Regions from separate parts of the Homo sapiens genome. Here regions 2 and 3 are each reported to be linked to region 1. The links are microRNA targets in miRTarBase. Many come from high-throughput screens and were not tested one by one. Region 1 holds a microRNA gene; each other region holds the end of a gene's coding sequence.

Region 1 (4,246 bases):
CCTTTCACAATCTGAAGTGAATGGTGCAGAGAGCTTTCTTGTCAAGTCGTATGTTTCTTCCTGCAGCTCGGCTTGCCCTTCCCCTGCTTGTGCCGTGTACCCTGTAACACTATGTTTGGATCCCAGCATCAGATGGTGAGTTCTACTTTTGGTTTGTAAAATCATGTGGGATTGTGTTTGGAAACTGCCTTTCAAGTGAAGTTCTTTTTGCTGGCCTCCAGATAATTAGTAACTTACTGATGTATTGCTTGGACCCTTGCATTGTGTAATATATGCTTCTGTTAATATGTGAATGTCCATGAAGGTTGGTTGGTATATAGGTCAGGAGCACCTGGCTTTTAAGGAGTCTTGTAATTACTGTATCGCCTGCTTTAAGTAGAAACATGGCAGCTCAATTAAGCACCAGAAATTTCTTCTGAAGCTCCTACTTTTAATGAGTTAGCACTGTTGCCTGGATTTATGAATGGGCAGATTTTGAAAATGAGGTTCTTCATTGTCATCGTGGAATTGAGTTCTGCTTAATTTCAGACATGCAGGTGATAAATCTCTCCTTAATGATTCCAGAAGGAAAAGGAAGGGATGGATTTTAGAGTTTTTTATTTCTTTTGTCAAGGTAGTTTTATTTTCTAGTTCAGGTACATCAGTGAGTAATAGTAGAGATACATTCATGGCTGTTTTAGGAGAGTTAAGAGAACATTTCATTTAAATGTAAATGTTTAAAATCAAAGAAATGTTCCTGCATATGTACAGTTTTTACCTTTAATCTTGTTTAACTGATTTTTCTAGTCTTCAAGGAAAACTATTTGATTTTCACATCTATGATGAGAGAAAACAGAAAAATTGTCAAGAGTAAGAATTGATTTGACATTACTTTTGAGAGTTATCTGCTTCTTTTGCAAGTCATAATTTTTCATTTTATAGCTTTTATACTAGGCACCTCATTTTTTAATGATTTGTTTTGGTTCCAGGATGTTGCCTTCCTGGAGAAACTGATTAAAGATGATATAGAGCGAGGAAGACTGCCCCTGTTGCTTGTCGCAAATGCAGGTAGGTAGCATGATGCTGAATCTACCATTTTGAATATATAGGAGCGAGGCTACATCCTCAGCCTATAAAAGATAAAGTCTTAAGAAATGTGTGTGTACCACATGTTTAATTAAGATAGTCCATGTCCACATTGTAGCAAAAACTGTAATAGTAAGGTTGGCTCGTTAGATTTTTCTTTAATCGTTGGTTTGTTTTGGAAGTTATTTTATGTGTGTGTATACTTTTTCATTTAGATTGTAAATGCTTCTCTATCTTCTCCTTCATGTACTTCTTTTCCCTGTTCTAAACTGAATTTTATTTTATTTTTTTGAGACAGAGTCTCACTCTGTTGCCCAGGCTGGAGTGCAGTAGCACAATCTCACCTCACTGCAATCTCTGCCTCCCGGGTTCAAGTGTTTCTCCTGCCTCAACCTCCTGAATTGCTGGGATTACAGCTGCGTGCCACCACATCTGGCTAATTTCTTGTATTTTTAGTAGAGACAGGGTTTCACTATGTTGGCCAGGCTGGTCTCGAACTCCTGACCTCAGGTGGTCCGCCTGCCTCAGCCTCCCAAATCGCTGGGATTACAGGCATGAGCCACTGTGCCTGGCCTGAATTTTTAAATGACACATTTAAGCCAGGTGTGGTGGCACATGCCTATAGTCGCCCTACTCAGGAGACAAGCAAGATGCTGGCTTAAGCCCAGAAGTTCAATACCAGCCTGGGTAACATAGCAAGACCCCATCTCAATAAATAAAAATAATTGTACTGACATTGTAAGATTGTTGTAAAAATTAAACAAGAAAATTCATAAAATGTCACACTTAAATATCTACCTTATAGGCGGCAGAGCAACTACCACTTGCTGCTCCACTTATCTCATTCAGCATCATACTTGAAATCTAAGACAGTGCAATAAGGTAAAAAAAAAACTGACAGATTAGAAAGGAAGAAATAAAACTTTGTTTGTAGGCATGATTGTATAGATAGAAAACTAAAGAAAAGCTACTGGAACTAATGATCAAATCTAAACCATTTTCTGGATTTTTATATACCAGCAAAGAAGAATTGGAAATTGAATTTTAAATGTCATTTATAATAGGATCAAAAAAGATGAAAAATTTATGGATAAATTTAACAAAATATATGCAAGATCTGTACATTGAAAACTAAGAATGATACTGAGAGAAATTCAAGAAGACCCAAGAACGATATGCCATACACATGGGTTGGAAGACTAAGTATTAAGTCAGTTCTTCCCAAACTAATCTGTAGATTCAACTCGATACCTCTTAAAATCTCAACAGGCTACAATTTCTTATAGAACTTGATGAGCTAATTCTAAAGTTTATATAGAAATACAAGGGACCTAGGAACAGCCCAAAGAATTTTGAAAAAGAACAAAATTGGAAGACTTACCTTGTCATACTTCAAGACTTCTGTAAAGCAGCAAGTAAGATTGTGTGAGATTAACCAAATAAAAAAGAGAATTCAGAAATAGACTCATGTGAAGTATATGGACATTTCAGGTTTTTACAGATGCCTGAGTAATTCGAGGGAGAAAGGACAATCTTTTTACATCAGTGGTCTTAGAGCTTGGATATCCATATGGAAAAAAAACTGAATCTTAACCCTTATCTTATTCTCTGTATATATAAATATTAACTATAAATGGTTCATCAACCTAAGCATAGATCTAAGACAATAAAATGTCTCGAAGAAAATACAGTAGATCTTTGTGACCTTAGGTTACGTTTCTTAGGATACAAAATATGTGAACCATAAATTGTACTTTATCAAAAATTAAAAGCATTAGCTGTTTGAAAGCCCCTATTAAGAAGGTGAAAGGCAAGTTGCAGACTGGGAGAAATATTTGCAAAACATTTTTTTCTTATTTCTTTTTTTTTTGTCTTTTTCTATTTTTATTTTTTATGTTTTTGAGATGGAGTTTTGCTGTGCTGCCCAGGCTGGAGTGCAGTGGTGCGACCTTGGCTCACTGCAACCTATGCCTCCCAGGTTCAAGCGATCCGCCTGCCTCAGCCTCCTGAGTAGCTGGGATTACAGGCGCATGCCACCATGCCAGGCTAATTTTTATATTTTTAGTAGAGACGAGATTTCGCCATGTTGGCCAGGCTGGTCTCAAACTCCTGACCTCAGGTGGTCCACCTGCCTTGGCCTCCCAAAGTGATGGGATTACAGGCGTGAGCCACCACACCCAGCCAGCCACTGTCCCAGGCCTGTCTTCTTTTAAAATTTCTTTTTCATTCTTTTCCCCAGAAGCTACAAAACATTTGACAAAGAACTTGTATCTAAAATATATAAAGAACTGTTACAACTCAATAAGGACACGAGCAATACAATTTTTTTTTTTTTTTTTGAGATGGAGTCTTATTCTGTTGCCCAGACTAGAGTGCAGTGGTGCGATCTTGGCTCACTGCAACCTCTGCCTCCCGGGTTCCAGTGATTCTTCTGCCTTAGCCTCCCGAGTATCTGGGATTACAGGCATGCGCCACCACACCTAGCTAGTTTTTTTGTATTTTTAGTAGAGATGGAGTTTCACCGTGTTGGCCAGGCTGGTCTTGAACTCCTGACCTTAGGTGATCTGCCTGCCTTGGCCTCCCAAAGTGCCGGGATTACAGGTGTGAGCCACTGTGCCCGGCCCACAATACAGTTTTTTAAATGAACAACAGATGTGAGCAGATACTTCATCAAAGAAAATGAAAATGTATAGCACTTGAAAAGATGTTTAACATCATTAGTCATTAGTGAAATGCAAATTAAGATCACCGTGAGACATTACTACCTGTCTGTTAGACTAGAGAAATTACAGGTGGCTCACACTTGTAATCCCAACACTTGAGAAGGCTGAGACGGCGAGATCAATTGCCCTCAGGTGTTCGAGACCAGCCTGGGCAACATGGCGAAAGCCCTAGGAAATCTCTACAAAAAATACTAAACATTAGCCAGGTGTGGTGATGTGTACCTGTAGTCCCAGCTACTCCAGAGGCTTTGGTGGGAGGTTGGCTTGAACCCAGGAGAGAGAGGTTGCAGTGAGCCAAGATTGTGCTACCATACCCCAGCCTGGGTGACAGAGCGAGGTCCTTTCTTAAAAAAAAAAAAAAAAAAAAAAAAAAATTCTTTAAAATATTATGTCAGGCCAGGCACTTTGGGAGGCCGAGGCGGGCAGATTCTGAGGTCAGGAGATCAAGACATCCTGGC
Region 2 (4,246 bases), not on the chromosome of region 1:
CCTAAAGATATGTAATTTTGCTTGTTTTTGCTTTAGAATATCTGTAATTAAGAATTCTTAACATCAAAAATGTTTTCATTGTTCTTAAGCTGGTGGCAGATTAGGAGAAAGCAGGAAAATTTCTTCATGGGAATACTGGACCAGTATTAACTAGCACAGCTTTATGCTTTTTCCAACCATCTGTCACCTTTGGAAACAGTATATCAGATGAAGTGCAGTAATGACCATTATGCTGTAAAACATTTAATGTCCTTTTAAAATTTTGTTTATATAGAGCTGGGGCTTTGTGATCATGAAAATTCTCTGTTATACCATGGGTCATTATAATATGAAGGCAAAGAGGGTACTTTGCTTCAATTAGGAGAAACAGTGCACATCTTGCAAAATAGAAGAGACAAACCTTAGAGTGTTTGCTTAGTAATAGCTATTTCAAGACAATTTCTGAACTGTATCTACTGTTTGTTGCTAATGAAAGTTACATATGTTAATAATTTTAGGAATTCGAGAGGAGAAAACAGGAGAGAGAAGAAGCCCAAAGGCAGTACAAAAAGAAGAAAATGGAAGTGTTTAAAATACTGAACAAAAAGACTAAAAAGGGCCAACCAAACTTGAATGTACAAATGGAGTACCTTCTTCAAAAAATACAAGAAAAATGTTAAACATTTTGTTCCTACAGGTTAAAATATCTGCTGCCTATTAGGTTCTTCTGTGACATGTGCCTCCCAGCAGTGAACTAAATTTGTCGACATAAACTGGATTGCTAAACTATGCTAAATATAAGATGTTCACATATTTTTATTATGGTAAAAAATTTTCTAAATATGTTCTACATGTTTCTTATTTATTTGCCTCTGAAGGAAGGTTGGCCTGAAGAACTGAAAGAACCTCTTATTTTGCAAGACAGGCCCAAGCATGTAATACTTTTGTACCATATGAGATTTATATGAAATAAATTTTTTAAAAATAAGGAATCAGAGCTATCAATGAAGCATTTCAATGAAATATTTCAATTTAGTAAACAGTTACGTTGTTTTAAAATTTATTTTAATGATGAGGGAGGCAAAGACTCCTCTTGGACTTTTTATTTATTTTAAGTACATGTTACAGGGTGATGGGTGCTGAAATAAACTGCCCTCACCATATAACAAAGCGACCTTCACAAAGCAGTGAACTCAAAGTCTGATATTTATAAACATTCCCTTAAATGGATGTACATGGCTTGTTAGTCTAAGGTCTTTTAAATAATGATGGAAACCCCACAGTGTCACAGCAAGAATTAAGCTTTCCAGTTCCTATGGACCCTATACTTTAAGAACATTATCTCTGTCTCCCTTGTTGGTACCCTTGTGAGCTGAGATAAGCCACTGGGATAACTGCTTCTCATGCTTTGCAAATTGCAGAAGAATGAGAAAGGCTTGAAATATATATATAGTCATTGTAAGCAAAAAGGGCTGACCAATAATACTTGCCAAATATTGAATAATAAAATTTTATAAATGATAGCAAATACAGTCTGAAATTGCATTAAGATTTTAGGGAGCTCTTTCAGTCTACTAATTTATTCTGCATTTCAAGATCAGTAGAAAGTGCTTAGATAACACTGAACTTAATCTTCATTGCATAGAAAAGCAATGCTTTAGAAATTTGCATTGCACTATATTGCATTTAAAGTAAGCAGCCCAGAAAGCCTAAATTTGGCTACATTGGTGAAGACACATCACATCATGATGGAGGATAAATTATTTCAGTAAATTGCTTTACAATTTTTGTGCATTTTCACTTCTAGACACTTAATCATGACAAAACATGGAAGGAGATCTAGTCCTTTTGAGAGACAAGTGAAAGTCAAATTATATTCATTTTAACGACTTTGTTAAAAGCTACTTTATGCAAAACTTATATTAAGGAGTTACTCTTTAAAATTCCAAAGTTCTTGTAGAGGAATAAATGCCAAGTAATGGTATAATGGGGGAAAAAGTAATCAGTGACAATCAGATAAAGCAAAAGGTTAAGATTTTAGTGTTATCAATGAAGCACCCAGGAAGCTTTTCCTTTTTCGTTTTTTTTTTTTTTATTATCTTGGTGGTGGACAGTCTCCCGCCCACGCTGCAGTGCAGTGGTGTGATCATGGCTCACAGCAGCCTCAAACTCCTGGGCTCAAGTTATCCTGCTCAGCCTCACGAGTAGCTGGGACTACATGTACGTGCCAACACCTGGCTAACATTTTCTGTAGAGATGAGGTCTTGCCAAGTTCAGCCTTGCCTGGGCTGGTTTTGAACTGGCCTCAGGGATCCTTATGGCTCAACCTTGGCCGTACAAAGTGCTGAGATTATAGGTGTGAGCCACTGTGCCTGGCCTATAGGCTTCTTAAGAGGCATGTTTGAGGACCCTACACTAAGGAATTTGGATACTGTAGATGGGCTTAGTAATGGATGTTTTAACAGGCAACCCCAGTGATTCTGCTGGGTTGCTCCTCGCCACACTTAAAAAATGTTGGACCAGGGCCTCAGAGAAGAAAGAGGTTTTGTTTGGTTTAAGAAATCAGAGAAAGTTTCATGTGTGCAATAGCATTTAAGGAAAGCCTTCGAGGTTAAAAAGATTAGAAGTGTAAGAGCATGAGGAAAGTTACAAAGGGAAGCAAGCTTGGTATTATTTAAATATCTAATAAGTAGTTAGAATATATTATTATTGATGGAGGTAATAGTTCCTATCGGTTCCCTATTGTTTCCTTCCATGTGGAGAAGACACCATCATCCAAACACTCATGGTATCTTTACTTCTTGTCCCACTTGTTCCACCCAGGGGAGGTAAAGTAATAAATGATGTCTGGGAGGAGGACCTGGGCTGTCAGCAGAGTGCATGTACTCTTAATTGCTATTCTAATACTATAAGTGAAGAACAGGCTATATTGATAAATGTTAGAAGGGGGATGGATATTTTTGGAAAATATATATAGAAATTTGTGCTATATGGGTTAGTACATCAAGAAATAAAAGAGGAATAAAATTTGAAGGAGCACAACATAGAAAGAGAGAGGCTTAATTGTGGCCATAGCTTATGGTTTCTGGTTTCAGACCTTAATGTATACGTAGGGAGCTTTGATCTTGGTAGTTTGTAGAGGCTTCTATTAGGGCTATTAATTTGACTTTGTAAGTGTGAAGTAGGCTTTTAGTTGCAGTTTTGGCAAGAGGCTTTAAGACTTAAGGCACGTGGGATTTTGACCTAAAAGTTTAGGATATCTTTGTCCAGAGAAATTGGTAATTTCTATAGAGACAATGTGCAATACTGGGCTTTAAGCACATATGCGCAGGCCTCAATGAAGCAGAGTTTGAGTGAGGGTGATGGAGACATATTGGCTTCAGCAAAGACAGAGAATCTGGAAGTGGGGCTCACCCAAATGCTGGCCTCATGGATGTCCTCACCAGATGCCAGCCCAAGGTGAGGCTTAGCAAGCTACTGTAGTGGTGCTGGCATCAACAAAGGCACTGGCATGTGCAAGTGGTCTCATGCAGGCTACTGCAGCTTGACCTTGGCCTACATTAAATATGCATGTGTGAGCAGCAAAGGCCTCACTCATCAGATGCTGCTAACTCGACACCAGAAAACAATTTTATTCGTGGCAAGGATTTAATGATATAAGAAGAAATATTCATAGCTATGCTAGATGTTAATGACTGTATCAGTATTTGCTACTTTTAAAGACATGTGCCTTGGTTGCAATATAAAGTTCTAGAAAAGCTCAAGGTCTAAATTGTTCTGAGAGTCATTGAAATGCTGTGTAAAAGAGAAAATTTTGAATCTGAAGATATTTGAACATACTGGGAAAAGATCAGGTCTCCTTTGACTTGGTGATTGGGACTGGACCACTCCAAATTCTATACTTGGTAAGATAGCATCAGTGTTTCAGATGTCACTTTCTGAAAGAGAAGATAGAGTACCATGCTAAATGCATGGTGAAAAGTTTAACTTGTTGCTGACAAATTTCTTCCAACTTAGTTTAAGTGTGCAGCTCATGTGACTGGCATTCTGATAAGGCTAAAGCCATCACCGGTTATCTTCCTTCCTACTGATTCATGAGTTCCTGCTATAGAGTTTCTGCTACATGTAGTCTTTGGCAATAAATACTACTGAGTTTTGGGAGCATAATTTTGTACAGGATAACTGCCTTTTAAATTTGGTGGGTATAAGGCAAGTATTGTAATTACCTTGGGTGTTTTATTGACTCTCCAGACCTTTTGTAAGTTGA
Region 3 (4,246 bases), not on the chromosome of region 1:
GATCACTGAGCCAGGACTGAGGTGATTTCTCATCCCAGGTTTACCACTGACGTGTCATGGGTCTTGAGGTAAACAACTTAATTTATAGGGTCTTATCCACAGTCCACTGCAGTCCTGCTAGTCCCTGGACTGCTCAGTCTGGCATGATGTCCTCCTTTACTACTGACTCCAAATCAAACTATTTTCTAAGGTATACCTCAACTGTCATCTCTTCCACAAGGTGCGGCCCATCTCCAAATTATTTGTTTTTCTTTTTTTTTAAAAGATGAGGTGTCACTATATCACCCAGGCTGGTCTTGAACTCCTGGGCTCAAGTGATCCTCCTGCCTCAGCCTCCCAAGTAGCTGGGACTACAGGCACATACCACCACACCTGGCTATTGCTCCCTTTCTAACTTAGCTGTAAACCAACTGCATAAACTTATGCAACTATTGCTGACTGGATTAATTCACTTTAGAGTAAATGTGAACAACTGTTTTTAGAATTGTTTCCCATTTGATAAATACACTGGAAATTTTACCCAAGAGACCAAATGAAGCTTTACATTCCAAAACTTTAATGTCAATTAAGCAGCCTTTTCACTTGATATAAACTCACATACCCAGGAACACTGTGGGCTCAGAACATTATTTCACAAGCAGGTATTGCTGGCACGTTGTTTGTGTCACGTTTAGATTCCGATTAAATGACATCATTTTGTTCCTCAGATCCTGACATACACAATGAAAGTATTTGAAAGTTACATAACCAGTTGCACTTAATGAGTCATCCTTTGTCAATATTAGAATGAGGGAACCAGGATATGACTAGGAAGAGACTCAAGGGGTAAAATCTGAAGATTCTGTCCCATACCTCTGCAGAATCATGGACCCCCACAGAGGACTTAGGGGAGGGGCTCAGAAGCAAAGGGCTGTTTTGAAAATAGTTTGATTTTGACACAATGATTTGCAGACAAGCCCAGCCACCGTGGAGAAAAGATAGAGAATGAAGAAGTTCCAAATGGCTAAGATGAACATGAACTTCTAAACAGAATGAAAGCTCTAGGATTATGTCCACTTTAAGAAGTCTGCTGGTGATATCTGGCTTTAGAGGCAGGTAATGTCTTTTGACACCCTTTCTTCAAAGAAAGGGGTAAGGGAAAACAAGACCAAAAAAAAAAAAAAACACCTTCTCAGGCCAGGCCTGGTGGCTAACACCTGTAATCCCAGCACTTTGGGAGGCTGAGAGGGGCGGATCACAAGGTCAGGAGTTCGAGACCAGCCTGGCCAATATGGTGAAACCCCATCTCTACTAAAAAAAAATAAAAAATAAAAATTATATATATAAATTAGCCAGGCTTGGTGACAGGTGCCTGTAGTCCCAGCTACTTGGGAGGCTGAGGCAGGAGAATCGCTTGAAACTGGGAGGCGGAGGTTGCAGTGAGCCAAGATGGTGCCACTGCACTCCAGCCTGGGCGACAGAGTGAGACGCCATCTCAAAACAAACAAACCAACAAAAAAACCCACCTTCTCAGATATGTGGCATAAAGAATTTCTTAATCCAGGACGTTATTCCTCTACTAAAATAAAAACTGACTAAACAATTAGGACTTCTTACTGAAAAATGTAGGCAAAGTGGTCATCTATCACAGTGCCCACCAGGATGAAGTTTGTAGCAAAACTCAAGGCTACCACAAAGTAGTGCTACTGCAGCACAGACTGAACAAGGAGATCCTAGAGTAAGATACCAGATTAGTGCTTAAACCCTCAAGAGAAAACCGTCAGTCTGGATCAAGAGAAAAGTTCATCCAAACAAACCTACTTTTCAGACAAGCACATATATATGATCTATGGCACATACCAAAATGAAGAAAATAGCAGTTACAGTGGCCAATGTAGAACACATTCTTCAACTTACCTTTTTTTTTTTTTTCTGAGACAGAGTCTCGCTGTCACCCAGGCTGGAGTGCAGTGGCACAATCTCAGCTCGCTGCAACCTCCACCTCCCGGGTTCAAGCGATTCTCCTGCCTCAGCCTCCCGAGTAGCTGGGATTAAAACAGGCATGTGCCACCACGCCCAGCTAATTTTTGTATTTTTAGTAGAGATGGGGTTTCACCATGTTGGCCAGGTTGGTCTTGAACTCCTGACCTCAGATGATCTGCCCACCTCAGCCTCCGAAAGTGTTGGGATTACAGGCATGAGCCACTGTGCCCATGCCCGGCCCAACTTACGTTTCATCTAATGACCTTATTAAGTGTTCACTTTTCAAAGGATCTTTTAACTTCTTCTGAATGAACATTAGTCAGCTGCCCCTCCCACTAGCCAATCTTTAGCCCTGAGCACACATGGGTATAAAAACAATGGAAAACAATCAAATTTAATAGTATCCTAAGTCTCAACCCAAGAGGAACAATTAGTAGTAACACTGATTGAGCTGCTTCACCACCTTTCCCCACAACCCACCTCCATGTCACCATCTGCTATTCCACTGACTTGGAGGCCAACGATATAACCTGCCCCACAACACTCTAAAACAGCTACCTACTTTTATCTCAAAAGTACTGACAGAAGGCTCCATTAGCAGCAAACAGACCTATGAACACAAGGTCCTCTACGCTAGGAAAGCATTACTCTTTGAAATGGGGCTATATTTACAAATTTTATTTTTTTATCCCAAAAATACATATAAATGAAAACCTGCTCTTCAAATGCAGGGAGGCCTTTGCCTAACATTGTCATATGAAAATCAGTATCAGCTCTTTAACACACAATTTACATATATACATACATACACACTATATGTAAGCAGCAAATACTTTGCTACTTACACATATTCCTCTGGTGGAAAACTAGGACACTGGGAAATTCCCCTGCTTTCCAACCTTGGGAAGGTAAATACAACCTCTCTCAACAACTTTTTAAAGGATGAAATGTGTAGAAACATGTAAACAACACAACCTGCTTTAGATCTATACATGTTATTAGAATAAAGAAAGAACGCTGTCACATCAGTGACAGTTTATTTCTCAAAGAAAAAAAGAGATAACATTTGAATAAAAATGCAAAACTGAAGTACAGTTAATATGATCAAAATTGTTGTGTACATGCTCCATGGAGAAATCAGGAATTCTTTCACAAAGAACAGATCCACAGCCAATTTCAGTCACTTGTGATGCTGAATCAGCACCCACTGGTAGCAACCAGGATCCTTCTGTACAGTCACGGGCTTGAGCAGGTGCCATAAAGCATCTGTTTAAGTTAAACAGTCAATAATGTTTACTGACTGCAGTACATTCCCACCCCCCAAAAAAATAAGTGCAAAATCAACTTCTAAGCTCAAGAGCTCAAACAAGTCAAAGCTTTGGTATATACTGGAGGTTGTTTTGGTGATAACCAAAGCCTAGTAAGATTCTCTGCTCAGGGGTTCGCCCCAAAAGAAAAACACCTGGTCCACAAAGCTTAACACCTATATAAATAAAGTAACTGTACAAAGAGAACAAGCCATGATTTCCCCTTAACCAAGGGTTTATAGTTTCCTAGGCAGCAGTTCTGAAAGCACCAACTAAAACCACAACACTTCTACTAAAACACGGTGTGTTGTAATTGGTGAGACTGTTCTGAAAACAAATGCCTGCAGGCATGTGGCCAAGGTGCCACAGAAAAAGTTTAACAAACATTAGTCAGTGTATTCAAATGGTAACACAATCTGGTCAGCAACAGAGGAAAGACTTAAGGCAGTAAGAGGCATTACAGAGAGCACCATAGTGCTGGACCCACCACCATAGTGCTCTCTGAGTCAATCAAAGACTTCCAAGAAGGAAACCGTGTATCAATAGTTTGGGTTCTTAGTTTGCTAGCTGTCAGACACTTCTTCCTCCTCCTCCTCATCCTCGTCATCTTTCCTGTCTATTTCAGAAGTGTCCGACGACTCATGGAGCAAGACGTATTCTCTGCTACTGAATCCAAATTTGAGTACATCCTTTTCTTTTAGTTCATAGTATCTCTGTGGCTCAATACGTTTGTTGTTTAAGAAGGTTCCATTGCCTGAGCCAAGGTCAATGATGTAGGGCTTCACTCTTCGGCCAACTGTGCCATCAGCACGGGTATATTCCACAAGCCTAGCAGAAAAAAAGGAGAAACCTGTGAGCAAACTTCTGCCTCAGATCATCCAGCTTCTCTAAAGCTCTTTGCTAAGATAGCCTAGATGACGTAAATAACCTGGCTTGAGCACAATTCAAGTTAAAATTCTAGGGAATCAAAGAAATCA

The links. The annotated mature microRNA hsa-miR-1972 reads UCAGGCCAGGCACAGUGGCUCA and lies in region 1 at 1,621-1,642, opposite strand. An mRNA with a match to its seed (bases 2 to 7 or 8) in the 3' UTR can be bound and repressed. Matches are read on the target gene's strand: a 7mer-m8 pairs with bases 2 to 8, a 7mer-A1 pairs with bases 2 to 7 and ends in A, and an 8mer does both.
Region 2: miRTarBase lists CCDC59 as a target of hsa-miR-1972. Seed matches in the 3' UTR shown: 8mer at 864-871.
Region 3: miRTarBase lists SNIP1 as a target of hsa-miR-1972. Seed matches in the 3' UTR shown: 8mer at 1,172-1,179.

What each region holds. Positions count from the first base shown.
Region 1 is chr16:70,027,789-70,032,034 of GRCh38, reverse strand. MIR1972-2 (microRNA 1972-2) reads right to left here and starts at 1,689; the gene lies at 1,613-1,689. It also overlaps the pseudogene PDXDC2P-NPIPB14P and the pseudogene PDXDC2P.
Region 2 is chr12:82,349,564-82,353,809 of GRCh38, reverse strand. It overlaps CCDC59 (coiled-coil domain containing 59), which reads left to right. Exons shown (of 4, transcript NM_014167.5): 4 at 498-1,507. The coding sequence ends at 659. Among named protein-coding and RNA genes, the nearest start is that of CCDC59, 6.7 kb to the left of the region's middle.
Region 3 is chr1:37,533,916-37,538,161 of GRCh38, forward strand. It overlaps SNIP1 (Smad nuclear interacting protein 1), which reads right to left. Exons shown (of 4, transcript NM_024700.4): 4 at 534-4,097. The coding sequence ends at 3,833. LOC105378649 (a long non-coding RNA gene) reads left to right here. Exons shown (of 3, transcript XR_947190.3): 2 at 1-68. Among named protein-coding and RNA genes, the nearest start is that of SNIP1, 18 kb to the right of the region's middle. RefSeq lists an enhancer at 1-950.